Homo sapiens: one gene and its partners. The protein of the gene in region 5 purifies or fractionates together with the protein of the main gene of each other region. This does not show direct contact. Each region holds a gene or a part of one and is shown on either strand. Other genes may lie near its edges.

Region 1 (3,500 bases), on a different chromosome or scaffold from region 5:
AATTGTGTTAACAGTTTAGTGTTTCTTACAGATAACACTGATAACACTTTTTTTGTTTTCATTGGGTCTTATCATTGGTACAGACTGATCCAAAAATCCAATTGGCTTGCTAGTAATTTTTTCCTGTGAATTGCTAAGATTTATGGGTAAATTAATTTTTCTTTTTCTTTTCTTTTTTTTTTTTTTTAAGCATTTGCTCCTTAAATGCAAATCGTACCACTAAGATCCTCTCACAACAGATTAAGGTCGAATTTGCAGAGTTCTTCAATTTTTCATGAAGCAGTGAGGGTAGATCTGTACCACTTTTTCCGTTCTGTGTAAATCACCGTTTATGGGAAACACTTGTTTTTTAGGTTGGTGCTATTTAAAAAAAATAAATAAAACGGTAGGCATTTTCAAAACATCTCTGAACTTTTTTTTTTTCCCAAACTGGATTGGGGCCGCCTCCTCTCAGAGCTACTCTTTAGAATAGTATTAAACTTATAAAAGCCTTTGCTGGCTTTGGGAAATAAAATTTTTAATAATTCTCAGTTCTTTTCAAGGCTTGAATTGTTTTCTGTCCTTCAGGGTTCACATATTTTGTGTATGGTATAGCTCACTGGCTTTTGCAGGGCCCCTTAAAGTCCAGTAACAATTGCCATCAGTAAATGCTTACCATGAGGCAGACCAAGCACTTGAATAGTCCAGTGAGGTACAGGTACAACTGCTATAGTTTACAATTGAAGAGGCTCAGAGGTAAAGTGGTTCAGGTAGCCAGTGAGTGGCAGAGTAGGGATTCAGACCCAGAACATTCATAATATTTATTTGTGTGCATAACAAGTAGTTGTAATGTCAGTTAAAAGTTTGTATTCCCATTTTGGTTTTCTATGTCTAGAGTGGCACCTAGGGCTGAAGGTGATTGACACTAGAGGTACTTAACTACTTCCAGAGAATTTCTACATTAGCTTATTTTAAGTGCATGAATTCTAGGGAAAAATATTTTACCCTTTGCAGATGCCACCCCTAAGAGATGCACCAACAAATAGATGACATGAAATTAAGCATTAGTGAATGCTGTTGATACGAAATATGATCTTCAAACATAAAGGAATCAAATGAACAAACTTTGTTTACAGGGGAGGAGGTGGTGAGGGAAAGGTTTGAAATACTCAGGTGAGTAGGATTCCTACAGCTGCATAGTGAGATTTGTAAGGTTCTGGTAAGTTTCTGCAGCTGAAGGACTTCTGCATTCACCTCTTTTGTAAATATTATGGAATTTTAAAAGGAAGGATGGTTGCCTCTGGGGAAGGGAACTGGGAACTGAGGTTATTTTGGAGGGGAAGGGGGGCTTCTAGATGTACCTTTTATGCTTTATTAAAAAGTATATTACCTATTAAAGTTTGTTTAAATCTATTTGATTAAAAATTTGAGTAAACTGGTTTCTAAACACTGTCTCCAGTGGCTTCAAAAACACAGGTACTGTTGGAAGGCATTCACTTTTGAGTGGCCTTTGACCTCAGTTTTAATCTGATTAATTCAGTCATTTTATAATCTTGCTCTTGGTGAGTTTAAACTAGATTTGGCTAAAATAGAGGTGGGAGTGTTGGCCCTTCAAAGACAGTTTGATGTGTTCAAAATTGTAGTGCATTTAAAAGGGTTAGACTTCTGTGATATTTGTCCAACGTCAATCAGTACTCATTGCATTTTTTTACTTAGGCTCTTGATGTTAGTGGATACTGGTATTATATGCAACTTCTGAATAAGTTTTAAAGAATTTGAATAATCAGTTGAATAAAAACCTGAAAAGTGGTGAATGAAAATTTGAGAGATAAGGAAAGGCTAGAGTTGGCATTCAGGGGACACAAATAGTTTGAAGACTCTGGTAGTAGAATTATGCAAGTTTTCTTAAAATTAGGCAATATATAATATTGATACTACGAAATTCAGTACTTTTCCGTAGGAGGGGGTCAGGTCTCATTGCCTTTTCCGTACCCCAAAATATGAAAGGTGGTCTACAATTTTGTTGTGGCATTGTCACAGCAGTTGGCCCCATGTTACATTTCCTCTTGTGGCACCTCTGAGAGGTGTTTCTTCATTACCTCTTGACAAGAGTATATTTTGATTGACTGCTCTATGTGCTTGTTTATTTTTTATAGCATTTAAATCAAACGGTATTGAGATGGATTGGGTTATGAAACATAATGGTCCAAATGACGCTAGTGATGGGACAGTACGACTTCGTGGACTACCATTTGGTTGCAGCAAAGAGGAAATAGTTCAGTTCTTTCAAGGTACCTCTAGTATTAGTCAAAGTTTAGTAGTATTGTAATTTTATATTTGTATTGTTTTACTGTTTTTAATTTGTAAAACCCATTTGATTTTGGAACTTTTAAGTTTAACTATGATAGTCTTGGTTAATGTATTAAAATAATATGCTCCAGTTAATATTCAATACAGAATGTGTAGAATATGTAAAACCTAGTTAATGTGCAGTAACATATTTGAGAATTGTGATGAAATGAACCGTGAATTAGTATATGGAGCATATATTTGATTTTGTAGCCTTTTTTCATGTAATATAGGTGGGCTTTTAGAGTGTGTAATTACACAGTGTTTTTACACTGGTCGCAAAAAATTTATTTAATCCAGTAATATTTGAAAAAATCTTTCATTTGTATTATGGGGTGATGGGAAACTAAGCTTTTTTGTTTTGTTTTGTTTTGTTTAGACTTGTTTTAAATATTTGATTCAGATGGGAATGTTTCAGCCTTTAACACTGTTCCCCTTGATGGGGTTATTTGTCCTTGGGTTAAAGGGTTGGAAATCGTGCCAAATGGGATAACATTGACGATGGACTACCAGGGGAGAAGCACAGGGGAGGCCTTCGTGCAGTTTGCTTCAAAGGAGATAGCAGAAAATGCTCTGGGGAAACACAAGGAAAGAATAGGGCACAGGTGGGGATGGAGAGTTTGGGATGGTGTTAAATTTTTATTTTTGGGGGTTGTGGGTCACTATTGCTTAAATGGGGGGGTAGCCATAACATTTTTCTGGGGTAGTTTAAAAGAATTGATAATTATCTAAATTTAACTTGGAAACTACAGATTTGGGTGGGGAATTAATGCTAATAGTTAAATTAAAATTAGATTGTTTCCATTTCTCTGTAGGATGTTGTTGATAAATGCTTTTGTATAATCACCTATTTCCTTTAAAACACCTATTATGTACTAAAAGAGACAAAGTAAAAATATACTTTATGAATTGTTTTCCGTGACTAATTTCTTTGTAAAACTTAAATATTTAATTAAGTTTGTAGGTTTAAACTGTTAACTTACGGTGTATTTAGGCAATTTAAATTGGGTTATGTATCTAGATATAGAAAAACTTACTGCATTTTGCCCAGTATCTAATTTACACTAATACATTTATGCTGAAACCTGTACCTTAAAACATTTTTAAATAGGTATATTGAGATCTTCAGAAGTAGCAGGAGTGAAATCAAAGGATTTTATGATCCACCAAGA
Region 2 (4,952 bases), on a different chromosome or scaffold from region 5:
TACTGAGCATCACGTCACTGTTGGGTTTAGACACAACACGATCTTATGTATGGATGACAGCACCACTAATAACAAATGCCAGTGACCTAAACGGGGAATAACTTCAAATGAAACAAAAAGCACCTCATATCATATTTATCCTGAAAGACACAACTGGCTGAATAAAATCTGAATACAGGAAACATAGCAATGGGTTGATAATTTTGGTGGAACTTGATGATGTGTGACCCACGCCCAACACAGTGTGACCCAAGCCCCCAGGAGGGTTCTCTAAGTGAGTTTGGTCGGAGGCTGCCATTCACAGTGACTTGTATTTGCCACAGCAGCTCTTTCTAAGCCCAGTCCTGGGATTATCTCAGGGATCATCCCACACCCCAGCGGGGAGATGGGCCAAGTCCCCACCTGACCTCATCTTAGGTAGAGAGGCTTCCATGGAAGTGTGGGCTGGCTGTGGGGGGTTGAGACCTAGCCCCGTTCTTTTGACATTTCACCCTGTGTTCTCCAAACTCCAGCAAGCAGCTTCCATAGCTCATTAAATTTGACTGAAGGTCTGATGGCTTGCAAAGCAAATTCTTTACAACTGTTATAAAGGTTTCATTGCTTAAGCATATAATCTAGCAAAACTGCCAAGCCCCCTCCACTCCCTAAACTCTAAGACTTGCCAGGGAAGAGAACAGTGGCCAGTGGACTGCAGGAGTAACTGCACTCAGCCCAGAACTCCCTGGAGGACACAGGGAAGGTTCTGGAAAGGTGGCGGTACCTCACAGGGAGAGACGTGGTGCTCCAGGGCCCAACTTGCTCATGTTCAGATCCTCACTCTGCAACCCACCAGCCGGCTGTGAGTGGCTACACAATCTCTGCCTCAGTTTCCCTATCTGTACATGGGTTGTTCATAGCCTCCACCTCAGAGGGTAGTAATGATGCCAAGCTCTTAGAACAGTGCTCAGCATGTGTGCATCCTGTGCCTACTCTATGCCAAGCACTACAGAGAGAAAAATGAACAAAATAGGGAGAAATCCCTGCCCTCATGGAGTTTACATCGGGGCAGGGGGCGGGGGCGGCACAGAGCAGACAATCAATACAGTGATTAGCCCCCAGTTAGGTTAGGCATTTCCAATCTTTGCCAATAAGCCACATATTTGCCCAAGTTAGGGTGCATCCTTCCCATGAACTTTGACTGTGACCTTTGACTATGGGGTGACATCTTATAGCTGTGGTGTTTTGCCAACCAGCAGCTCTTGGTACACAAAATGTGCTGCTAGCAGGTGCCCCGGCCAACCTTGTCCTTGACCCACCTGCCTGTTAAGAAAAGGGTGTTGTGTTTTGCAACAGCAGTAAAATGGGTCAAGGTTTAGTCAGTTGGAAGTTGTGTCAAAACTCACTATGGTTGGTTGAGGGCTCGAAGTCTCCCAGCATTCATTAACAACTATCTGTTCAATGATTATCTCCCTGGGGCGTGTTGCAGTGAGTTGGCCCAAAGCATAACTGACCCTGGCCGTGATCCAGAGACCTGCCCCCTGACGTCAGTGGCGAGCCTCCCTGGGTGCAGCTGAGGGGCAGGGCTATTCTTTTCCACAGTATTTAAAGCTGGGAGGTTCTGCCACCAAGCACGGCCTTCCCACTGGGAACACAAACTTGCTGGCGGGAAGAGCCCGGAAAGAAACCTGTGGATCTCCCTTCGAGATCATCCAAAGAGAAGAAAGGTAAGTAGAGCTTTGCATTTACATTTTGAAAAATTACAAAGATGAACTCATTTTTTTCCTGAGAGCAATAACTATTTGGCAATGCACAGCCCTGGCAAAAGGCCGTCGAATGTGTTTGAAGGTGTCTGTTGTTGTTTTTGTTCAGGACGCTTGCGTTTTCTATTTCAGGTGACCTCACATTCGTGCCCCTTAGCAGCACTCTGCAGAAATGCCTCCTCAGCTGCAAAACGGCCTGAACCTCTCGGCCAAAGTTGTCCAGGGAAGCCTGGACAGCCTACCCCAGGCAGTGAGGGAGTTTCTCGAGAATAACGCTGAGCTGTGTCAGCCTGATCACATCCACATCTGTGACGGCTCTGAGGAGGAGAATGGGCGGCTTCTGGGCCAGATGGAGGAAGAGGGCATCCTCAGGCGGCTGAAGAAGTATGACAACTGGTAAGCTCGGCCCCCGCTGCCTGTCCCAGCACCCTGCAGGCAGGGCTCCCCTGCGTCTCCTGGGAGTTGGTGGAGAAAGGTGAATGAAGGCCTTCGGGTAGTTTCAGACTCTTGAGAAGATGAATGCAATGGTCAGAACCATACAGACTTGAATTTTGTGACATTAGTGGGCCAGCCCAAGCTTTAAATGAGGTGTGTGCACAAAAGCTCTGCCAACTAGATTCCTGATTAAAAAAAAGGCAGCCCCTCTCCTACAGACCAGGTCCTAGTGGAGTAAATGTCCACCTGGCCATGTCTTAGATGGTCTGTGTGTTCACACTGATGGACTGTTGTTAGCGTGCTCAGCACTCTGCTAGGCATGGAAAGCCACGGTACTGAAGGAGATGGTTCGCTGCCCGTGGTGCTTGGCTGAAAGGAAGCCTGTGATTTTTGCAGCTGGTTGGCTCTCACTGACCCCAGGGATGTGGCCAGGATCGAAAGCAAGACGGTTATCGTCACCCAAGAGCAAAGAGACACAGTGCCCATCCCCAAAACAGGCCTCAGCCAGCTCGGTCGCTGGATGTCAGAGGAGGATTTTGAGAAAGCGTTCAATGCCAGGTTCCCAGGGTGCATGAAAGGTGAGCGGAACATTGATTTGATTGGGTAAAACAGCAGAGAGCCTTTTCTTATTTACATCTATCCTAATGGTAATTCAAACAATAATGGAAGCTCCCACCACCTCAGATGTCTTTCAGTTCCATACATGAAGTTGGCAATGTATTGAAAATGCACATCCCTCTTCTGCTTTTACAGACTGTCTTATACAAACGTGAAAACTAGTTCCATGCATATGGGTTTTAAATAGCTTGGTGGGACCCAATTGCACATTTATGAAAACTCTTTAATTTCAGCAGGCTGTTCACTTTCCAGTGGCCTCTTCTAACCCAGGGGGCTGGTGACCAGCAGGGTGTGGTGGTGTTAGTGGAACACCGTGAAAATGGGTCTACCTGGGAAAAAAATGCTGGTCGTGTTCGAAGTCCAAGGTCATTTCTCACCAGTGCCCACCCATCGCACCCTGTAGGTCGCACCATGTACGTCATCCCATTCAGCATGGGGCCGCTGGGCTCGCCTCTGTCAAAGATCGGCATCGAGCTGACGGATTCACCCTACGTGGTGGCCAGCATGCGGATCATGACGCGGATGGGCACGCCCGTCCTGGAAGCAGTGGGCGATGGGGAGTTTGTCAAATGCCTCCATTCTGTGGGGTGCCCTCTGCCTTTACAAAGTAAGTGTATTATTTCAGAATCAAAAGTCAAAATAAAAAAGAAAGCTGAACGCAAACCCCAGTGAGTGCCTCGGGGACCCCCAAGCAGGGCCCTGGCGCACTGACTTGGGAGGGGTCCTTGTTCACAGAGCCTTTGGTCAACAACTGGCCCTGCAACCCGGAGCTGACGCTCATCGCCCACCTGCCTGACCGCAGAGAGATCATCTCCTTTGGCAGTGGGTACGGCGGGAACTCGCTGCTCGGGAAGAAGTGCTTTGCTCTCAGGATGGCCAGCCGGCTGGCCAAGGAGGAAGGGTGGCTGGCAGAGCACATGCTGGTGAGCCTGCAGGAAGCCCTGATGTGCAGATGAGAGGCCTGGGGGGTGGCAGAAACAAACAGCATTACAGTTCCCACCCGTCAGCACACCTCTCTGAGCGTGCAGGTTCCCGGACAGATCGGGAAACCCCACCAGTAATGATTAGTTTACACATATACATCGCTTTTGAAGGCCCCCAAACACCAGGGGACCATAGAGATCCTTTGGACTTCATGATTCTGGGAGTGTTTGTTTGCACTGATACCTGAAGAAATAGATCTTGAGGGCCTACATTCCAACCTCTGGGCTGAAGTACCAACCTCGGGGAGAAGGAAACAAAGATCACAATAAAGAATCTTGTCCCCAACAGATTCTGGGTATAACCAACCCTGAGGGTGAGAAGAAGTACCTGGCGGCCGCATTTCCCAGCGCCTGCGGGAAGACCAACCTGGCCATGATGAACCCCAGCCTCCCCGGGTGGAAGGTTGAGTGCGTCGGGGATGACATTGCCTGGATGAAGTTTGACGCACAAGGTGACTCTTTTAGACCCAACTCTTGGTAACGATTGGACTCAAGCGAATCGTTGGCCTTCGAAACATGTCACATTCTCCTCAGTCCAGTGTTTGGATTTTTAAACTCTGTTAGTCCAGAGTTGGCCAAGCCTTAGAAATATGGATCCTGTAAGAATTCTTCAACTTAATATTCAATCTGGATTGAAACTGGGCCATATGTTGCTGTTTGTTTACATACATACATTTGTTTAAATGGTATTGGTGGAAAATTGTGGAGGAAGCAAGAGTCGTAAACGTATCAAAGTTGCATATGATGCTTGGATGAAAAGAGATAAATGCATATTCTAGGGAGGGAAAAAAGATTTGAGAAGTTGGCATAGAAATTAGTCCGGCAATATATAAGAGTATATGTTCTGCTTTGCCTGGCACTCACTACTGCTTCTCTGGTTTAAAACTCTCCAGGTCATTTAAGGGCCATCAACCCAGAAAATGGCTTTTTCGGTGTCGCTCCTGGGACTTCAGTGAAGACCAACCCCAATGCCATCAAGACCATCCAGAAGAACACAATCTTTACCAATGTGGCCGAGACCAGCGACGGGGGCGTTTACTGGGAAGGCATTGATGAGCCGCTAGCTTCAGGTGTCACCATCACGTCCTGGAAGAATAAGGAGTGGAGCTCAGAGGATGGTGTGTCCCTGCCAGAGGCCTTGGTGTGCCGGGCTGCAGGGACTGCCTGTTTGAGCCAG
Region 3 (4,436 bases), on a different chromosome or scaffold from region 5:
TATACCAAAACAGGTCATGGGCCAGACTTGACTCATGGGCTTTAGTGTGCCAACTTTTATATATAGCATGTATATAAATTAGTTATTGTATCTAATAGGATATGTAATTCATTCATACAATCTGCAAGTATATATTTTGTGCTCATTGTGTGCTTATGCTGCTCTAGCACTGGGATACAACAATAAAGAAAACAAATTCCTATCCTCAGTGAGTTTACCTTTAATGTGGGAGACAGATAACAAACAAGGGAAGAAATTTAGAGAGGGGTCAGTATTTAGAGAAATACTGTGGGGAACAGTGAAGCAAGGTGGGCAAGCAAAATAGGACAGTGAGGAAGGCTGGGAGGTGGGGTGCTGTTTATGCAAGGGGTCAGGGAAGTCTTTCTGACAGGTAACACCTTGAAGGAAACAGGAGCCAGCTGTGCAGAGAGCTGGGTGGGAGTGTTCTGGGGAGGGGGCATCAAGGGCACAGGCTTGAGGCAGAAGCTTGCTTAGTGTCTCTGAAGAGCAGCAATGAAGCCACACTAGTTGGGGAGGTGGAAATAGGAGAGGAGGTAGTTGCAACCTCACCTTGAACTGTCATAGCACCTATTCGCTGTCCTTGCTTATCTTCTTTGAGAAACTGGGGCAGGGGTCACATAGGATGAAATTTACAATTTGGAGCCTTGTCAAGGCATTGCCACCCAAAGACAAAATTCTGATCCTACCTTTCCTTAAATCCTACAAGCCCTATGTCACTTGGGAGAATCACTACAGAGGAGGATTTTTACCTTGTTAAAATGGAAAGATTTCTTTTAGGGATCTGTGCCTCTTAAACTATAGTGCATGCAGATCACTGAAGGATCTTGTTAAAATGGAGCTTCTGATGTATCAGGTCTGTGGGTATCTGGGTCCTGAGTATCTATCTGCATTTCCAACAAGTTCCCAGATGCCACTGATGCTATTGATCCAAGGTCCATACTTAGTATGACGAGCTTTCTAATCAGTATTTAAATTACAAAATCTTATAAGTCTAACCTTCTAGTTTCTATTTATATTTATTGGATTGTAAACTCCTTAAGAGTAGGAATTATCTTAGCTTCTTGTATCAGACTCAGCACTTAGTTTAGGAAACTGCAATTATTAGGAGCTGAGTGAAAAATACTATTCATGTAAATGCATATATAAGCACACTACTCTGAAGGAAGATATGTGAGGGGAAGATATGTGGATTTTATTGTGCCTTTTGTCTGAATTTATCTTTCACAATAATATAGTTGAAATTAGCCTAGAATTTAGAAGGACAGTTATAATTTTTCCCAGTTAGTAATTTGAATGATGTCAAATGGATTCGTATCCTTTAGAAAATTTCCATTTTTTTCACAAAATTGTATTATATTTTGATATTACTTTAATACATAACTCAGCTAGAATATGTATGTTTCATTTCTGGAATGTATATTCTAAAATTTATATGAAAATGCAGAGGATCTAGAATAGCTGAAACAATTTGGAAAAAAGAATAAAGTTGGAAGACTTAGTCTCTCTCTTTTTTTAACCATAAAGTTATAATAATCAAGAGTGTGGCATTAAAGAATAGTCAAGCCGGGTGCGGTGGCTCACACCTGTAGTCCCAGCACTTTGGGAGGCCGAGGCAGGCAGATCACCTGAGGTCAGGAGTTCAAGACCAGCCTGACCAACATGGTGAAACCCCGTCTCTAGTGAAAATACACAAATTAGCTGGGCGTGTGGTGGCAGACGCCTGTAGTCCCAGCTACTCAGGAGGCTGAGGCAGGAGAATCACATGAACCCAGGCGGTGGAGGTTGCAGTGAGCCAAGATCACGCCACTGCACTCCAGCCTGGGTGACAGACTCTGTCTCAAAAAAATAGAACAATGGGACAGACCACAGGGTCCAGAAATAGAGCCAAACTTAACATGGTTAAATGATTTTCAACAAGAGAGATGAAGAAATTTAAGGGAGAAAGGAAATTCTTTTTAACAAATAGCACTGGTACAACCAGATATCCAAATAGAAAAGAAACATATAATAAAACACACGACTCAAAAACATTATGCCTAGTAGAAGAAGTCACACATGGCTGCTGGACGTGGTGGCTCATGCCTGTAATCCCAGCACTTTGGGAGGCCAAGGCGGGCAGATCATGAGGTCAAGAGATTGAAACCATCCTGGCCAACATGGTGAAACCCCGTCTCTACTAAAAGTATAAAAATTAGCCGGGCATGGTGGTGTGTGCCTGTAATCCCAGCTACTCAGGAGGCTGAGGCAGATGAATTGCTTGAACCTGGGAGGCAGAGGTTGCAGTGAGCCGAGATCGTGCCACTCCACTCCAGCCTGGCGACAGAGCAAGACTCCATCTCAAAAAAAAAAAAAAAAAAAAGTCACACACAAAAAAGTGCTTACTGTGTGGTTCCATAGAGGCAAAGCTAATCTATAGTGATAGTGTTTAGAATAGTGGCTGCTTCTAGTAAGGGGTACTGACTGGGAAGGGACCATGGGAGCTTTCTGGGTTGAAGATGTTCTATATACTTTGATATGGAGGGATCATTCAGTACTAGTCAAACCGTGCACTTCAGATCTGTTTATTCCACTCTATGGAATTTAAACCCCAATCAAATACAATGTACCTGTTTTTTGCTATGCTAATAAAATCTCTTGTGGTTTTGAGGTACACAAAAATAATGAAGCTACTTCATTTTTCTTTGTCATCCACATTTAGCACACTATTACGGAAAGAAGAAAAATAAAAGAATTGGGAGGCCACCTGGTGGGCATAGTAACTTAGCTTGTGCCCTGAAAAAAGCCAGTAAGAGGAGAAAGAGGCGGAAAAATGTTTTTGTTCATAAGAAGAAACGCTCCTCTGCATCTGTTGATAATACCCCAGCGGGCTCTCCCCAGGTATGAGATCTGTGATGTGCCTGTAATGTCTTGAAGCCAAGTGACCACTGCTTTATAGTATGGACACAGAATACCTGCAGGTCTTTCTAACTCAGATCTCTGGCCAATAGAAGATGGTTTTGTGGCCCAAGAACTGGTTTGTCCTGAATTTCTTTTCTTTCTTTATTATTTTTTTTTAATCATATGAAACCTGGGATTGATGTCCTGAATTTCAATGAGACTTCTCTCCTTTTCCTGCAGGGAAGTGGGGGTGAAGATGAGGATGACCCAGATGAAGGGGATGATGATTCCCTAAGTGAAGGCAGTACATCCGAGCAGCAGGATGAGCTACAGGAAGAATCAGAAATGTCAGAAAAAAAGTCATGCTCCTCTTCTCCCACCCAAAGTGAGATATCCACATCGCTGCCTCCAGATAGACAAAGGAGAAAAAGGGAGCTTCGCACCTTTTCATTTTCTGACGATGAAAATAAACCTCCTTCACCAAAGGTACCATTTAAAAAATAGTTTCTTTTTTCTTTCTTTCTCTCTGGAATTTCCATCTGGAATATGATTATTAGTGATATTGACATTCTACTTCTTTCAATACAGACTTATGTAGAATTTCCAGGGTCTCTTGTAAAGTGACCCCAAATGCAGTGATTTACATGTGTTTCAAGGATTAGTTGAGATCATCTACTTATAGGGGGAAAGTCTCTCTCAGAGTAGCTGCTTGTTTTAACAACAACAACAAAAAAAGCCCCATTGCTAGCTTATTTGTAGCTTGTCATTTATTTTTGGGAAAACTGCCTTTTTAATATGTTTCATAATATATATGGTTTTGTAGAAAAAAGTTATCCTTTTGATTCTGGTTAAGCCATTTGGCTTAATATATTATTTACTATATACATATGAACATTTTATAACATATGTATAACACTAAAGAACAATTTAGTGTTCAAAAACTAGATTGCTTTTTAAGAATATTCCATGAACAGAAGCAGTAAAGATTCCTCCTGGTAGTTTAGTTAAGCCTTCTCTCAATGGAATTATCATCCCCTTCTCTTCAGCACCCTGTTTTTCTTAGTTAAATTGTCTAAATTATCTGTGCTGGAACTTTGAGATAAATTCTTTCCCATTGATACTTCGTATTATAAAAGACAGACATTTCCTGAGTACCTGATGCACGTGGGTCTTTGCCATCTTTGCTGGGAGAAATCATGTCCTAAGACCACTTTAAATCATGTCTTGAAAGATTATGAATTTAGGTAGAGAGACTTTTTTAGAATAAAATAGCCGTAACACCATTTGGTTTGATTGTGTTGTGGGGAATGAAGGAAATAAGGATCGAAGTTGCTGAAAGGCTTCACCTGGACAGTAACCCCTTGAAGTGGAGTGTGGCAGACGTTGTGCGGTTCATCAGATCCACTGACTGTGCTCCATTAGCAAGAATATTCCTAGACCAGGTAATCACAGATACCTATAATTTTTAGTAATGTCTCTTTAGCAATAAATTATGGATGTAATAGTCAACAATTTATTTACAAGTTTTAGGAAAAATG
Region 4 (4,436 bases), on a different chromosome or scaffold from region 5:
AAAGTTTGAGAAGCATTACCTAGAGATATAGGAATCTGATTTCAGGATACTATTATCAGTGAATGATCTCTTCCTAATGCCTTAAATGAAGACGGACTGTTCCTCTACCAACCTTAATGAGATCCTCCTATCTTATAAATCTGAATTCATTTCCTTATTTCTTGAGCTAAGTAAACCATGTTTATCTTGAAACAGTTCAGAGCAGTCCTCACTTTCTTAGATAGAATTCAACTTGGCAAACATTTATACAGAAGGCTTTTCCATGTAAAATCCAAATAATCAACCTGTAAGTGAACTTTTGGAGCACCAAGTCATTTCAGATCGTGAATTTCCTGTAGGAGACTAGGGAACCATGTGGCTCTGAAAATGAGTGTAGTTTTTTATGTCAGGTTCAAGATCTTGAAGCGCTCAAACAATATTCCAGGGATTTCCAGGGATGGCTGTGGCTGTCAATAGCGGATTGATTCCAGGGATAGATGTGGCTGTCAATAGCGGATTGTGCGTGACTGTTTCCATTGCACCGGCAGCTTCACGTTCCCCTGTCTGTTAACTAAGCTGCTCTTTATTAACAGTAGATTCCAAATACAGGGCCCTAGTCTCTGCAGAGTTCATTGTCTCAGAAGGAAACGAGCGATGGTATTGGTTGATGAGGGCTGTCAGGGTGCGTGAACTAATCACTGTGGGGGAGCAGAAGAAAGAGGCTTACACCCAGTGGGTGATGGATCAAGAAATGTCTCACCCACACTCCCACCCTTTTTTTACCCACTAGCTGAGTCTTGGAAGATGAAGAGGTGTTTTTGAGGCAGAGACAACTACAGGTTTCCTACAACATGAAATGGCAGGAGTTAGTGAAGGAGCGATGGGAAAGGCCAGCTCTTTGGGGCTAGGTGTAGGCTGTGGGTGGTAGAGTGGTGGGCAGGGACATGGAGGGAAGGTCTGCGTGCCAGGCTTTGTGTGGTTGCTGTCCAGAGCTATTGGTGACATTTCGGCAGGACAGTAGCCTGATGGGATGTGTGTTTTGGAAGATCAGCCCAGCGGTGTTGCTGCTGCAGAGGGTGGCTAGAGTTGGTCAAGTACCGGTACCTAGCTAGAGCTGGACAGGACCGGTACCTGTTGAGGGACGCTTGGGTAGCATTTATCAAGAAGTCTAAAATGCAGCTCTCTTGAGGTCTGGCAATTGCTCTAGAATTTTTTCCAAAGGAATTTTAAAGGTGTGCTTAAATGTGTACATATGAAGTGGAAATTTCAGGTATTTTAGGTGTCCTGCTTTAGGAGATAAGGACCAAAATTGACTTAACTGATTCATCCATACTGTGGTCTGCATCTCTAACAAGTAAAAATGGTGTGGCTGAAATACTTTTATTGACATGAGGAGAGGTTCAGAATATACTTAAGTGAAAGTAAACTGTAAAACAGTATGGCCAGTACAAAGCCCTTCTGTGTTTAAAGTAAAACAAAAGTGTATGTTTGTGTAGCATAGAAAAGGAAACATCAAAGGATGTACTCACTGTGATGCCAAGTGATCTTTTATATTCTTCTTAGCTCTTTTCTATATATTCTGGTTTTTCTACAGTAAGCAGTTATTTTGTAATAAAGCTACAGTAAAACCACAAAAAGATGTCAGCTCTAAGAGAAACTGCATTCCATTTTGAGCACGTTAGGCTGCTGGTGTGGAGGTCCGCTAGGCACAGAGCTGCAGCCCGTTCTCGTTTCAGTCAGTTACCATTAATTCTGTCCTGAAGTGACAGAATTAGCTTAGCACACATTTACTTGGTTAGTGTCACAACCGTTTTCCTCAGTTACTGTAACTTCACGCTTCCAGGTGACATTGGGGAGGATCTGGTGGCAGCATTTTCAGTGCAGGGGCCTCAGCTTTTGTATCTTAATGTAAATACTCAGTGCTTCCACCTGTTGTTGAGGCCTTTTTGGCTTCTGGTTCCGGATGGCATTGGGTGAACAAGAAAACCTAGCTACAGTTTACAAGCATAAAAGCTGTCCATCTTCTCACCTGAATTCAGTGTCATCTCTGAAGCATTTATAGCTGCAGCATTTTTTCTGTAGACAAATACATTTTCTGGATGATTACAAATAAGGTCCAGTCTGCTCTGATGTGGTGTCAAGTTGATGCCTGTAAACCAAAAGCCTGAGGATTATTGACTGTAGGTGTTGAGGCCATTGAAATTGTGGTTTTCTAGGTGGACCATAGGCGCAAAGACTGTTACACTTTGCTCGGCGTGTTTGGTAACTGATGGCAGTGTCTGCAGGTAATTGGGCACAATTTAGAGGCGCACACGGATCCAGACACAGAATGTGGCCTCAGAAGCTAACACTGGAATCAAGTTGTCTGGCCTTCAGTTAAATCCAGCCCAAGCACTGCAAAGTTGTCCTTGACCGGCAGGTTTTGTCCAGGTTTTCAAGTCGCCAAGCCATGCATGCTGGGAGTGGGTCTGAAAGTGGTTGAAGTGTGTGTAAGGCTGGTCTCCTTATCCACGATGACTGTTTGTTCAGCCTTAGCAGTGTCCGTGAGCCTGGAAAAGTGATGTGGGTGACCACCTGGGAGGCGCGTGTGTGGGATGGAAAGCCAGTGTGGAGGCTGTGGGGCCAGGGTGGCTGGTGACTGTGTTTAGGTGGGCTTTATAGAGGACGGTGCCTCAGTTCAGGGAGACGGTGATTTGCAAAGTGGTCGGCCAGAACAAGTTCAGGGTGGTTTAATTGTTTGCATTAAACGATACTGATTTTTGGTTCATGTGGATCATTAAGTATTAGTCGCATATTTATACTTTTAAGGATACAGCAGCGATATGCAAATTATGAAAGGAGCTCTCCAACACTTTCAAGCTTTGGAAATGTCTCATGAGATCAGAATTCGTCTTCTGTCATTTACACTCCAAATTTTAATTGTGATGTTTCAAAAGTGGCCTATTTGTGGTCTCTGTTCCCATTGTTTGCCGTGAACCTGGGCTCAAAGGGCGGGCTCCTCGTAGCTCTTAATACCTTGGAATGCCGTCTGGGCTTGTGCCCAGGCCATTGTTGAAGTGGGAGGCTGTAATCCCCCCTGCCAACAGCTTAATTAAGAAAAAAAAGGGCTCTTTACTGCTTGCTTTCCCCTCAAGTCTATTTTTTAGGATGGACAGTAAGGAGTATAATTTGGTTTTTCTTTTAAAATAATTTTCCCACCATTCACAGCCTCTGTTACATTTTCCCACCTCCTTTCAAAAAGGGTTTGAGATTGGACAGGTCATAAGGACGTGCACGATGAGACAGTTAAAGGTTTTGAAAGAGGAAACCACATACCCGGAAACCACATGCACAGAAGTGGGAAACTGCAGCTGAATGCATTTGCTGCAGAGCTTTTGGGACCAAGGCAGAAGATGGAGATGAGGGATTGAACAGTGTTTGCAACATCCTGCCAGAGGGGATTCCTTCCGGCCGAGGAGAGGCCCGTGGCATCACTTGGTGGCCTTGAAAGACCCCTCCCTTTTCTGAAGGCTGTGGCTCTGGCTGGCAGCATAGAGTGGTGCCCTCCGTGTACTCTCTTGGAGGATGAACTTGGACTGCTGCTCCATCACACTGTACTTCCTGTAAGGATACCTCCATCATTGACCTTGGGAGAAGTTTCCCTCAGGCCTTAGTATGTTTTTACACTTAACCCTGAACAGTAGGACACAGTCTCGTGACTTCTCATGGCTGCCTGCTGAAAAGTTTGTAGCTGAATTTGGGCCCACCACTAGCACATCCGTAGGTCACGTGATGGCAGGTAGGTCTCAGCACAAGAGCACTTTGCAGTTGAAGTGGTGGCTCCTGAGAGTGCTCTCACTGAGTCAGGGTTTGCCCTGGGCAGGGCAGCCTCCACCAGGATTTGCCTTTCGTTCCTTGCGTAAGGGTTTCCTACTCTTACTTTTCTTTGGTCTCATTTTCTTGCTGATTTTTCTCATCCTGTATGATTTTGGTTAAGTTGTCTTAAATCCCTTCTGTAACAGGGGAGAATGTAAATACAGCTGGCCCTGCTATCTGCTACATCTGTGGATTCCACCATCCATGGATTGAAAATATTTGGGGGGAAAAACAATAGAAAATAACAATAATAAAAACAATACAAGTAAATACAATATAGTATAACGACTATTTACATAGCATTTACATTGTATTAGGTATTATGAGTAATCTAGAGACTATTTAAAGTATACAGGAGGGTATGTGAAGGTTTAAGCAAATACTGCACCATTTTATATCAGGGACTAAAGCGTCTGTGGATTTTGGGGTCCTGGGATCATTCCCTCTTGGATGATAAGGAACAGCTGTATATACCCTTAATTCCTATTATCCATCAGTTCTACAGAGAGAAAAACCCATATCCTCCCTTCTTTAACTTCCAAGATGATTTTATCATGAGTCCTTTTAAACTGACTGCCGTGTAGCCATCAGACAGCACATGT
Region 5 (3,500 bases):
CGTCAGTGGAAGATGATGATGATGTTGTTTTTATCGAACCTGTACAACCTCCCCCACCTTCTGTACCAGTGGTAGCTGATCAAAGAACCATAACATTTACATCATCAAAAAATGAAGAACTACAAGGAAATGATTCCAAAATTACTCCTTCCTCAAAAGAGTTGGCATCTCAGAAGGGAAGTGTAAGTGAGACAATTGTCATTGATGATGAAGAGGACATGGAAACAAATCAAGGGCAAGAGAAAAATTCCTCCAATTTTATTGAACGAAGACCTCCTGAGACTAAAAACAGAACCAATGATGTGGATTTCTCCACTTCCAGTTTTTCAAGAAGTAAGGTAAATGCAGGAATGGGTAATAGTGGTATCACCACAGAACCAGACTCTGAAATTCAGATTGCTAATGTTACAACTTTAGAAACAGGTGTAAGCTCTGTGAATGATGGCCAATTAGAAAATACTGACGGGCGAGATATGAACTTAATGATTACACATGTAACATCACTGCAGAATACCAACTTGGGAGATGTCTCTAACGGACTGCAGTCAAGTAATTTTGGTGTTAATATACAAACATACACCCCATCTTTAACTTCACAGACCAAGACTGGAGTAGGACCTTTTAATCCTGGTAGAATGAATGTGGCAGGAGACGTTTTTCAGAATGGAGAATCTGCAACTCATCATAATCCTGGTAAGCAGTAAGAGATACTCTACTTCATGTAAATGAATTTAAACTTTTGGCTGCTGCTTTTTTCATTGTAGTAACTGGTATTACCTTGTTTAGTTTCATCATGTGAAATATGTGAATTATATTGAATTTTATCTTAAGTTTGGTATTTTAATAAGAATTGTAAAACCATGTATAGTATTTTTCTGTGGATTACTAAAAAGTTAATCATAAAGTAGTTTTATATTTAAAGGATTTAAGAAAAAAATACTCTTTACATTCATCACCAAAGTCTGATAATTTGGCCGGGCACGGCGGCTCACACCTGTAATCCCAGCACTTTGGGAGGCCAAGGTGGGTGGATTGCTTGAGCCCAGGAGTTCGAGACCAGTCTAGGCCACATAGCGAGACGCCATCTCTAAATTTAAAAAGCAAAACAAACAAAAGAATGAAGTGTGATAATTTAATATCTTGTTTGTCATGCATTACTTTTTGCTAATAGAATTTTTACTAGTGTTTTAGTATATAAATTAGAGAACCAAAAGATTAATATAATAGCACACTTAAAGAACAGTGTAATATTGTACAGTAGTTGCATTTAGATTTTTTTTTGAGATGGAGTCTTGCTCTGTCACCCAGGCTGGAGTGCAGTGGCGCAATCTTGGCTCACTGCAATCTCCGCCTCCTGTGTTCAAGCGATTCTCCTCCCTCAGCCTTTCAAGCAGCTGGGATTATAGGCGTCCACCACCACGCATGGCTAATTTTTGTATTTTGTATGGGGTTTTATCATGTTGGCCAGGCCAGGCTGGTCTCAAACTCCTGACCTCAGGTGATCTGCCCACCTCAGCCTCCCAAAATGCTGGGATTACAGGCGTGAGTCACTGCACCTGGCCGCATTTAGATTTATTTCTACTTTCCCTGTGCTTATTTAATTTAATTAATTAGTTAATTTTTTGGGACAGGGTCTCTCTCTGTCGCCCAGAGTGGAGTAGAGTGGCACAATCTCAGCTCACTGCAACCTCGACTTCTTGAGCTCAGGTGATCCTTCCATCGCAGCCTCCAGAGTAGCTGGGACCACAGGTGTGAGCCACCATGCCTGGCTAAATTAAAAAAAAAAAAAAAAATTATTTGTAGAGACGGAGTCTTACTGTGTTGCCCAGGCTGGTCTTATACTCCTGGGCTCAAACATTCCTTCTGCCTTGGCCTCCTAAAGTACTGGGATTCTAGGTATGAGCCACCATGCCCAGCCATTTTATTTTTTATTAAGAGTTGGCTAAGGTTTTATTTTTCTCACATTTGAAGAAAGCCAAACATATCATCCTTTTTTTCTTTTCTAAAACTACTTTAAAGTTATGATTGACATGCAAAAGGCTGTATATATTTAATGTCTACAACTCGATAATGCCGTGTTTATTTTTGACCACGTATCTTTAGCTTTTAGTTAGCATTTTACTACTAAAAAATTTTTAAAAATTATTTTTATTTTTCAAGGGCATAAATAAGCAATACTTTTTTTTCTTATTTATTTGTTTATTGACAGAGTCTTGCTGTATCGCCCAGGCTGGAGTGCAGTGGTGCAATCTCGGCTGACTGCAGCCTCTGCCTCCCTAGTAGCTGGAATTATAAATGTGTGCCACCATACCCAGCTAATTTTTGTATTTTTAGTAGAGACGGGGTTTCACCATGTTGGCCAGATTGGTCTTGAACTCGTGGCCTCAAGTGATCCATCTGCCTTGGCCTCTCAAAGTTCTGGGATTACAGGTGTGAGCCACTGTACCCAGCCCCCCACCTTTTTTTTTGAAGGTTGATAGTTTTCTTGACTATTTGAAATTGTTTTCTGTGAGCAGCCTTGTTCTGTGAAAACTTTAAAATATGGAAGTGATAAGAACTCTGTGCCAGCCTGGACAACGTGGTGAAAAAATACAAAATACTGAAAATATGAAAAGTTAGCTAGGCATAGTGGTGCACACCTGTGGTCCCAGCTACTTGGGGGGCTGAGGTGGGAGGATTCCTTGAGCCCCATAGGCAGAGGTTGCAGTGAGCCAGGATTGCACCACTGTATTCCAGCCTGGGTGACAAAGTGAGACCCTGTCTCAAAAACAAAACAAACTCTGTGACTTTTTCATGACATGTCTGTGGATGTCTCTCTCTCTCTTTAACCTCTCCCCCAATTCCTCTGTGTGTGTGTGTCTATCGGCGTTTCTCTCTCACATGCCTCTCTCTGACCCATTCTGTCATCATTTTAGGCTCATTATCCTAGGGATTGTGGAGAATAATGTGAAGTAACTAAAATCTAGGCAATGTAGAATGCTATATGAATTGCTAGTTATTTTTCTTATTTGTCGAGTAATGTCTGATTATTGAAGACTGCTTAGAAAATCTATAATTTAAAACAAGAGCTGGTGCCAAGCATGGTGGCTCATGCCTGTCATCCCAGCACTTTGGGAGACCAAGGCAGGAGGATCACTTGAGCTCAGGAGTTTCAGACCAGCCTCTGGGCAACAGAGCAAGACCTTGTCTCTACTAAAGATAAAAAAAAAACTAGCCAGGGCTGGTTGCGGTGGCTCAAGCCTGTAATCTCAGCATTTTGGGAGGTCAAGGTGGACGGATCATCTGAGGTCAGGAGTTTGAGACCAGCCTGGCCAACATGGTGAAACCCCATCTCAACTAAAATACAAAAATTAGTGGGGCATGGTGGTGCATGCCAGCTGCTCGGGAGGCTGAGGCACGATAATTTGTTGAACCTGGGAGGCGGAGGTTGCAGTGAGCAGAGATTGCACCACTGCACTCCAGCCTGGGCGACAGACTGAGACTCTGTCTCAAAAAACAAA
Region 6 (4,436 bases), on a different chromosome or scaffold from region 5:
ACCTTCCTGTCCCTTTTTGGGTAACACTGATGATCGGAAAAGCTCCACCCCAACTCCTGTCATCTAGAGCCTTGGGTTCTTAGTTTGAAGGGTTCCACAGCAGGCATGATCTAACTCTGGACAACTTTCTGTATCTCAGGAGATTTGTGCCACACCCCGGCTGTTTCCAGATGACCCACGGGAAGGGCAGGTGAAGCAGGGGCTGCTGGGGGATTGCTGGTTCCTGTGTGCCTGCGCCGCGCTGCAGAAGAGCAGGCACCTCCTGGACCAGGTGCGGGGCCCCTTCCCTGTGTTTGTCCTGGAGCCGGTTTCTTTTTGCGTTTCTCCAGCCTGCTGAGTACCAGGAGGCCTTGCGAAAGCAGAGCTGTGCCGCAGCCGGATCTCCTGCTGTGTTGGGGGAAGGCAGGAGAGTTCCAAGGCAGAGGCTGAGGACTGCACTCTGTCCCTCTGCTGCAGGGGGGGGTGCCTTGGCCTCGCCAGAAGGCTCCATCAGGGAGGTTCGCCCTGCTCTGTGCTCTCCTGACCCCCGGACTCCATGGAGTCAGATCACCACGTTTAGAATAAAGAGACAAATGTGCCAGCTCACAGGAGGACGGGGCTGGCTGGCAGCCTCTGCCTCAGATCTCTCCTCAGCTAGCTCGCTGGTTTTCTTACAGGTTTTGAATATAAGTTTGCAAAAAGTTATTAAACCTGTTTCTGTGGGTAGACAGATACTCTGGGAGGAGAAGGCCTTCTCAGGTTTTCCTTACCTGGGAGTGTTCACCGTTTTATGCTTGGCTTGTTGCTAAGTGTTGCTGATTAATGCAGCGGCGTCAACAGTGTGACCTCATTCAGAGTTTCACTCATGTCCCAGGCCCCATGGTAAGCGTGTCACAGTCACTGGCTTTCAGACACATGGTCTTACCAGCTTTGACTTTTTTTTTAAACGAGAGTGCTAAAATCACTGCCATTGTGTTTCTGGCCGTAAAGTGGCAGAGCCAGGACCGCACCAGGTGCCTGGTGCCCAGCCTGCACTCCCCCGATGCTGGGTCAGAATGCTTACCCCTGAAGGAGCCCTGCGGTGGACGCTGTGGGTGCAAGCAGCTGGCCCAGTGTCGGGGCGCCAGGCTCCCAGCAGCAGGAGGGGCTGCTGTTCCTGTGGTGACGTGTTGCTTGCAGCCAGCTCGGTCAAGAACTGGGTCACTCATGCCCTTGAATGTCACATTTGTTTTGGCTTCAGGTCAGATGCTTTTAGTGAGGGCAGCAGAGTGTGTCCCGGGATATGTGGCTCCCTCGGTGTGGTCCTCAAGTTTTGCAATGAGAGGTCTGTTAATTTCATGTGGGTGATGCAGCCCTGTGCAGGCGCCGACATCCAGGTGTGCCGAAGAGTTCTCTGCGACATCCAGGTGTGCCGTAGAGTTCTCTGCGACATCCAGGTGTGCCGTAGAGTTCTCTGCGACATCCAGGTGTGCCGTAGAGTTCTCTGCGACATCCAGGTGTGCGTTAGAGTTCTCTGCAGACCGCGGTGCCTGTGGAGCACTCAGCTGTGGCCACACCGCGGCCGGGACACTGGAGTAGCGCCGGGTGGTGCTTATATCACGCTCGCCTTTTGCTTCTCCCTGTGCATGGCAGGTCATTCCTCCGGGACAGCCGAGCTGGGCCGACCAGGAGTACCGGGGCTCCTTCACCTGTCGCATTTGGCAGTTTGGACGCTGGGTGGAGGTGACCACAGATGACCGCCTGCCGTGCCTTGCAGGGAGACTCTGTTTCTCCCGCTGCCAGAGGGAGGATGTGTTCTGGCTCCCCTTACTGGAAAAGGTCTACGCCAAGTGCGTGTGCTGGGGGCTGAAGGGCCTGGCCTGGGGCAAGTGGGAGCTGCCACTACCATGGGCTGCCCCAGGAGGGTCTCTGCTCACTCTGGGCTGCAGAGCCCCCTTCAGTTCTGAGGGTCTGGCAGCTCATTCTGTGAGTCAGGCTGACAGGCCAGGTGCAGAGATTCTTCTTTTGGGCCTGTGGATTGCCCACTCCCTGCTTTCCCTTCCCTTGTTCCAAAGCCCAGCGTGGAGTCGTTCTCCACAGAGAACATGTGTGCCGTCCTCCTTATTTTATCGGCCCCAGCAAGAAAGATGCTTCTTTATATTTGTTGTGGAGTGGTTGGGACAGGCAGACTCATTGTGTAGTCGTTGGGGAGGAATGAGGCTACCCCAGCATACCAACACTTGTGTATCACGGTGCTTGCTGGCTCAGGGGACCAGGACCCTCACCATGAGTCATAATTGAATAGCCTTCCCTCTTAGAATGCATTTGTCTTCTTGCCAAAGGCAACTGGACTGACAGGCAGGCAGGGAAGCTGGTGAACATGGGAAGGCTGGCTGGTGACATCAGTGCCCAGTGAGCCCTTCCATCCCAAGGGCTGTTTTAGGAAAAGCAGGGTTGGAGCTTGAGAGCCAAGGGATGTGGGCATCCATAGCTTCCACGCCTCCTGCCCTGCTCCTGTGCCCACACCGGATGCCAGAGAGTTTCTGTGTGTGGGCAGAGGACTGCAGGGCGCTCACGCTTGCTGTGAAGTAAGGCGTTTGAAGGTGAGGCTAAGCCTTGACTTGGTGAGGATGAGGAAGAAGGCAGAGGGGAGTAAAGAGGTGGGATTGAGGCAGCGGTTGGACGATTTGGGGTGCTACAGACCATGGGAATCAGAGAGGGGGCCATGCTCAATGCCAGAGGCTCACTCCCATGGTGATTGTGTCCCCTAGGGTCCATGGGTCCTACGAGCACCTGTGGGCCGGGCAGGTGGCGGATGCCCTGGTGGACCTGACCGGCGGCCTGGCAGAAAGATGGAACCTGAAGGGCGTAGCAGGAAGCGGAGGCCAGCAGGACAGGCCAGGCCGCTGGGAGCACAGGACTTGTCGGCAGCTGCTCCACCTGAAGGACCAGTGTCTGATCAGCTGCTGCGTGCTCAGCCCCAGAGCAGGTGAGGCACGTGGCCAGCATGGGAGGGCTGCAGCCAGCGTGCCCCCCACTGCCAGGCCTCAGGCACACTGTAGCTTTTTATGTGACTGGCTACACAGCCCTGTCAGGACTAAGTGGGAAGAAGTAAGCTTGTTCTCAAGGGTGGTGTCCTCAGTTTGTGACCTTCCCCTACTGTCCTCTTCCAGAGGGACGTGGCCCTTCTCTCCCCTGACCAGTCCTTTCCACTAGTGCGAGGCAGGAAGAGGTGGCACCGAGTCAAAGCCCACTGTCTGTGCCATCCCTGGCCCAGCTGGCAACCTGGCAAAATCAAAACCTGTTTTTTATTTTAGTGATAGATAACATTCGTTAAAAACAGTTTGTCTCCAAAAAATGAAAGGGGCCAGGTGTGGTGGCTCACACCTGTAATCCCAGAACTTTGGGAGGCTGAGGTGGGAGTATCGCTGGAGCCCAGGAGTTCAAGAGACCCGCCTGGGCAACATGGCAAGATCTCATCTCTACAAAAAATGAAGGAAAAAAATCACTTAGATGGAACCACATGTGACTTTTGAGTGCGCTCTCAGTTTTCCATGAGCACGCACGGTTTACGTGTTCCCTTCCGCACCGCTTCTCACACTGCCACACACGCGCTGTCAAATGTTCGCCCCATGAGCGGGTTTGCCACAGTCTCTTAATCATTCCCCTGATGTTGGATATTAAGATCTCTCTGGTTTTATATAATTATAAGCAGTATCAATGAACATCTTTATCATTTTTTTCATACTTAGGATTATTTTAAAAATATGGGTTAAAGAATATGAATATCACAGTAAACTGAAACAAGTTGTCATAGGCCTTGGTCTGGGTCCCCCATAAGCAGACCCTGAGATGAGGTTCAGGAGCACGTTGAGAGGTTCAGAGAGCCTGGAGGGCGTGTACTCCCCGCCAGCCCCGCTGGGGTGCCAGGAAGGACGCTGGCCTCAGAGCCTCCCACCTGGGAGTGAGGGCGCTGGTCTGGTGGGCATTAGCTCGGGGAGCTGTTGGTTTTGGGTGCTCCAGGGTGGGGTAGCGCTAAGTCCTAGCACTTCAGGCTTTAGAGGAAGCCCCCAGGCAGAGAGAGATGGCAGCTGGCACTGACTGGAGGTGCATTGGAGCCTGCTGAGGTGGCAAGGGGCCGCGGCGTGGGCGAGACTGAAGTCCTTCCAGGAGACCCTCCTCTCTAGACCGTTGCCCCGCCACAGATGTGGCCTTCCTCTCTGTTTGGCTCTTTCTTTTCTATGCCCATCTGTCTCAAGGTCTCTGGCCAGGTGGAGCTGTTGCCCCCCTGGGCCTCCATGCCTCCAGTGGGCTTCTAGCCAGGGCACTATCTGAATGTCCTACCTCTAGCAGGCTTTGCCAAGAGAAACACTCTCTAGATTTCTGGCAGTTGCAGATGCATCTGTGCAGCATGTTTGAGAACTGGTGCTGTGCCAGGCATCGTGCACAGATGGGTACGGACGATGACTGAGGCCTAG
Region 7 (4,436 bases), on a different chromosome or scaffold from region 5:
CAGCCACATTTTATATTTTAGAGACCGGATCTCCATCTGTCACCTAGGCTACAGTGCAGTGGTGCAATCATGGCTCAATGCCGCCTCGACCTCCCAGGCTCCAGCAATCCTCCTGCCTCAACCTCCCGAGTAGCTGGGACTACAGGCATACACCACACCCAACTAATTAAAAAAATTTTTTTTGTAGGGACGGGGTTTCACTATGTTGCCCAGGCTGGTATTGAACTCCTGGCTTCACATGATCCTCCTGGCTCAGCCTCACAACTGAGCTGGGATTAAATGCGCGCGATTAAATGCTGGGATTAAAGGCGCGAACCACCACACTCAGCCCCAATTTGAAATCTAGGGTGGGCCTGAAGCCCACGCCTCTACGACAGTGTGAAGCCTGAGGAGTAACCTTTGTTTTATCCCCTTCTGCTTCCTAGGAATTTCCGCGTTGGTCCCTGGCTTTCCTTGTCACTTTCCGTTCAACTATAAAAACAAGAATTATTTTAACTGCACTAACGAAGGATCAAAGGAGAACCTTGTGTGGTGTGCAACTTCTTACAACTACGACCAAGACCACACCTGGGTGTATTGCTGATGCTGAGGTGAGAGCAGGGACCAACAGTGGTCATTTCACGGATGCAGAGGTGAGACAGGTGCACAACTGGTGTGTCACTGATGCGAAGGCGAGATCTGCTTTTTCAAGCGTGTCTGATTAGCGTCGCTGATGTGAAGGCGAGATCTGTTGCTTTTCCAGCATGTCTGATTAGCTGAGGTTCCCAGCAATGCGGGCTCCTGTTGTCAAAGATAAGGTGGAGTTGGGGAAGACTGGAACAACTCCCCAGATTAGAAGGATGAAAGAAATTGGGATTTCCCCCAGAAGCAGGAGAGCAGAGGGGGATTGGCAAACTTTTTCAGACCCAGGAAGGTATCATTCCAAGTTTCAAGTCTGGGAGGCTTTGGCTGTTGATGATTAGAAAAGTGGAATTTCTCAAAGTGGAGCATGGTATGAAAAAACAACCCAGAAAAGGGGATAACTGACCAGCTGTGGTGACTCACACCTGTAATCCTAGTGCTTTGGGAGGCCAAGGCAGGAGGATCAGTTGAGGCCAGGAGTTTGAGACCACCCTGGGCAATGTAGCAAGACCCTGTCTCTACAAAAAAAAAAAAAATTAGTTGGGTGTGATAGCACACATCTGTAGTCCCAGCTACTCAGGAGGCTGAGGTCAGAGGATCCCTTGAACTCAGGAGTTGCAGTGAGCTATGATTACACCACTGTACCCCAGCCTGGGGAACAGAGTGAGACCTTGTCTAAGAAAGAAAAAGAGAAAGATGGACGAAAGGAAGGAAAGAAGGAAGAAAGATGAAGGAAGGAAGGAAAGAGAGAGGGAGGAAAAGAGAGAGGAAGGGAAGAAAGGAGGGAGGGAGGGAAGGAAGGAGGAAGGGAGGGAAGAAAGAACGGAGGGGAAAGGAAGGAAGGAGGGAAGGAAGGAGGGAGGGAAGGAAGAAAGAGGAAAGAAAGGAGGTAGAGAGAGGGAGGAAAGAAGAAAGGAGGGAGGAAAGGAAGGAAGGAGAGAAGAAAGGAAGGAGAGAGGGAAAGAAGGAAGGGAGGGAGGAAGGAAAGAAGGAAGGGAGGAAGGAAGAGAGGAAAGGAGGGAGGAGGGAGGGAGGAAGTGAGGGAGGAGGGAGGGAGGGAAGGAGGAAGGGAGAAAGTAGGAAAGGGAGGAGGGAAGGAATGGAGGAAGGGAGGAGGGAAGGGAGGGAGGGAAGGAAAAGAGGAAGGAAATAAGGAAGGAAGGGAGGAAGGAAAGAAGGAAGAAAAGGGAAGGGAAAGGAAGGGAAGGAAGGGAGGGAGGAAGGAAGGAAGGGAGGGAGGGAGGGAAGAAAGGGAAGGAGGGAAGGAAGCAAGGAAAGGAAGGATAACCCAGAAGCCAAGACACCATGGTGTGCATCCATTGCCCCCATCACTGAGTAGCTGACCAAGGGAAAAATGGGGTTTATTTCTCTTCCTTCACCATTTGGGCCTCCTGCCCCACCTCAGCCCGCTGGTCATCAAGTACCTCCACAGAACCAACTTTATCCCTCTTTTCTTTTTTTCTTTTTTCTTTCTTCTTTCTTTATTTTTTTCTTTTTCTTTATTTTATTTATTTATTTTTTTTGAGACGGGGTCTCACTCTGTCGCCCAGGCTGGAGTGCAGTGGTGCAATCTCAGCTCACTGCAGCCTCTGCCTCCTGGGTTCAAGAAATTCTCCCACCTCAGCCTCCTGAGTAGCTGGGATTACAGGGGTGTGCCACCATGCCCAGCAATTTTTTTTTTTTTTTTTTTGTATTTTTAGTAGAGACGGGGTTTCACCATGTTGGCCAGGCTGGTCTCAAACTCCTGACCTCAGGTGATCCATCCAACTCGGCCTCCCAAAGTGCTGGGATTACAGGCGTGAGTCACTGTACCTGGCCTATCCCTCCTTTTCTTCTAGTCTTTTCCTCTCTCTACATTCTTCACAAAGGACCAGCTGATTGAAGCAGGTGGTGCAGAGGGTATTTCTAAAGGTGGTTATTTAAGCTTGAAAGATGTTCTCCAGCCTGTAGAAATGGTCTCTAAATCTCCCGCATGGATCAACTGACCTCACTGCTCTGTGACTTCTGGAATCTAAATAAAAAAAGAGAAGCCCTTTCATCAGATGTGTAGACAAAACCCCATCCCTCCTCCCTTTGGGGTGGAAAACCCTGGTGGTTCTAGCAATGTCTGTCCTTACAATGCATGTGGCTTATGGATGACACTAAATTAGCGGGCCCTTCCTGAATTTTGCCTTGGTAATGAAAATCATCTTCCTGGAATAGAGGAGAGGGAAAGGAGGGGGTTTGGAACTCTGGGCACCATCTTAACAGGGTAGATATTAAAAAACACCCACAGTGGCGTTCAGTCTGTGGCTAGGACTAGGAACAGCGTCCAGCCTCTGACTTCTGTCCATCACAGCAGAACTGGCACTTTGCAGGTCCCCTTCCCCTTAGCATAGAGGTGAGATTGAGGAGCTCATTGTTCATTGATCTCCTTGCTCCTATGAGCTAGGCAGGGATGTGGGGGTGGGGGCGTCTGATTCCTCTCAGCTCAGCTGCTTCCGACTAAGTCTGGAAAACCAATACAAAGTCATTTTTAATTCACCTTCCTCTTTGAGTCAATGCCTACTTATTCATTAAACTCAGATCTTTGCTTCTATTTTCAAGGAAAGGAGAAATATCTTCAGAGGAAGACTGCCGCCATACTGAGGCTGAGCACAGATTTGTCTTTTTCATTGCATCTGTCAAGCTTAAATAACCACCTTTAGAAATACCCTCTGCACCACCTGCTTCAATCAGCTGGTCCTTTGTGAAGAACGTAGAGAGAATGCGGCATAACCACCAATAAAGGAGTCTTGATTTAACCCTGGGATCTGCCTTTTCTGCTTCCTAAGATGAGACCGATGGTGAATGTGTGGGGAAGGAAAGATTGGTAGCCAGGCTGTCGAGTCTCATAGTGTGGAGAGGTCAGACTCTCAGGCCAGGGACCTCTAGGAGTCATTACAGCCTGCTCTGTCTTCTGAGGGAAATCACAGATTTGGGTGGGGTGTTTGTAGATACATATTAAATTATTAATGAATAAATTAGGAAGTAAACAGAGGGTAGAAAATTCACCACAAGACTGCCTCAACCATTCCCTCCCTGTGCCCATGGCAGATATCAAGAACTGATTACAGAATCTGATTCCCTCTCAGCCCAGATGGAAATTCACATTGTTGTTCTTGTTCTTTCTTCTTCTTCCTTTCACTCTTCTTCTCCCTCTCCTCCTCCTCCATCTTCTCCTCCTTCTCCTCCATGTCTCCTCTTACTCCTCTCCTACTCCCTCTTGTCCTCCTTCTTCTACTCCTCCCTCTTCTCCTCCTCCCTCTCCACCTCCTTCTCCTCCTCCCTCTCCTTCTCCTCCTCCTTCTCCTCCTCCCTCTCCTTCTCCTTTTCCCTCTTCACCTCCTCCTTCTCCTCCTCCCTCTCCTTCTCCCTCTCCTCCTCCTCCCCCCGCCTCCGTGTCTTCCTTGTGCTGGAATTCTCTTACCCCTTGTCTTCCTGCAGTCTCCTCCTCCCTTCACTCATTGTCCGTGGAATTGCCCCTGTGATGGAGATAGACGTGGGCTTCCTAGATCCCCCTTCAAGAAAGGACTTGCTGCCCAGCTCCAGTGAGTGCTGTCTGCAGGCAGCCTTTGGTGTTCAGCCCAAATCAGAGATGGTCTCAGCTTCAAAATGGCCTCCCTCGCCCAAACCATGCCCTTCCCAGGGTAGGCCACAACTAACGAATGACCAATGCTGGGTTTAAAGGCCTGGCTATTCCAGTCCAAGTGAGATAACTCAAAAAGAGCTACATCCAGAGCTCCCGTCTGTTCCGCTGAGGTTGTAGAGCCTGCACCGTGGCTCAACCTCTCCCT

The links.
Region 1: the proteins of ZMYM2 (region 5) and HNRNPH3 purify together in Homo sapiens (affinity purification with mass spectrometry; one study listed by BioGRID and IntAct). This does not show direct contact.
Region 2: the proteins of ZMYM2 (region 5) and PCK1 purify together in Homo sapiens (affinity purification with mass spectrometry; one large-scale study listed by BioGRID and IntAct). This does not show direct contact.
Region 3: the proteins of ZMYM2 (region 5) and SFMBT1 purify together in Homo sapiens (affinity purification with mass spectrometry; one large-scale study listed by BioGRID and IntAct). This does not show direct contact.
Region 4: the proteins of ZMYM2 (region 5) and CHSY1 purify together in Homo sapiens (affinity purification with mass spectrometry; one large-scale study listed by BioGRID and IntAct). This does not show direct contact.
Region 6: the proteins of ZMYM2 (region 5) and CAPN10 purify together in Homo sapiens (affinity purification with mass spectrometry; one large-scale study listed by BioGRID and IntAct). This does not show direct contact.
Region 7: the proteins of ZMYM2 (region 5) and ELSPBP1 purify together in Homo sapiens (co-immunoprecipitation; one large-scale study listed by IntAct). This does not show direct contact.

The regions. Positions count from the first base shown.
Region 1 is NC_000010.11:68,335,064-68,338,563, forward strand, and holds part of HNRNPH3 (heterogeneous nuclear ribonucleoprotein H3), read left to right. Parts: intron 1-2,135; 5' UTR 2,136-2,158; coding exon 2,159-2,270; intron 2,271-2,794; coding exon 2,795-2,933; intron 2,934-3,439; coding exon 3,440-3,500.
Region 2 is NC_000020.11:57,559,501-57,564,452, forward strand, and holds the start of PCK1 (phosphoenolpyruvate carboxykinase, cytosolic [GTP]), read left to right. Parts: upstream 1-1,609; 5' UTR 1,610-1,703; intron 1,704-1,871; 5' UTR 1,872-1,911; coding exon 1,912-2,135; intron 2,136-2,570; coding exon 2,571-2,752; intron 2,753-3,195; coding exon 3,196-3,399; intron 3,400-3,527; coding exon 3,528-3,715; intron 3,716-4,064; coding exon 4,065-4,227; intron 4,228-4,668; coding exon 4,669-4,893; intron 4,894-4,952. UniProt on the Homo sapiens protein: Cytosolic phosphoenolpyruvate carboxykinase that catalyzes the reversible decarboxylation and phosphorylation of oxaloacetate (OAA) and acts as the rate-limiting enzyme in gluconeogenesis.
Region 3 is NC_000003.12:52,906,017-52,910,452, reverse strand, and holds part of SFMBT1 (scm-like with four MBT domains protein 1), read left to right. Parts: intron 1-2,719; coding exon 2,720-2,898; intron 2,899-3,138; coding exon 3,139-3,384; intron 3,385-4,211; coding exon 4,212-4,340; intron 4,341-4,436. UniProt on the Homo sapiens protein: Histone-binding protein, which is part of various corepressor complexes. Mediates the recruitment of corepressor complexes to target genes, followed by chromatin compaction and repression of transcription.
Region 4 is NC_000015.10:101,241,693-101,246,128, reverse strand, and holds part of CHSY1 (chondroitin sulfate synthase 1), read left to right. Parts: intron 1-4,436. UniProt on the Homo sapiens protein: Has both beta-1,3-glucuronic acid and beta-1,4-N-acetylgalactosamine transferase activity. Transfers glucuronic acid (GlcUA) from UDP-GlcUA and N-acetylgalactosamine (GalNAc) from UDP-GalNAc to the non-reducing end of the elongating chondroitin polymer.
Region 5 is NC_000013.11:19,993,227-19,996,726, forward strand, and holds part of ZMYM2 (zinc finger MYM-type protein 2), read left to right. Parts: coding exon 1-693; intron 694-3,500. UniProt on the Homo sapiens protein: Involved in the negative regulation of transcription.
Region 6 is NC_000002.12:240,589,204-240,593,639, forward strand, and holds part of CAPN10 (calpain-10), read left to right. Parts: intron 1-139; coding exon 140-271; intron 272-1,611; coding exon 1,612-1,808; intron 1,809-2,729; coding exon 2,730-2,947; intron 2,948-4,436.
Region 7 is NC_000019.10:48,021,745-48,026,180, forward strand, and holds the end of ELSPBP1 (epididymal sperm-binding protein 1 precursor), read left to right. Parts: intron 1-425; coding exon 426-583; 3' UTR 584-590; exon of another isoform or gene 591-632; intron 633-3,207; 3' UTR 3,208-3,410; downstream 3,411-4,436.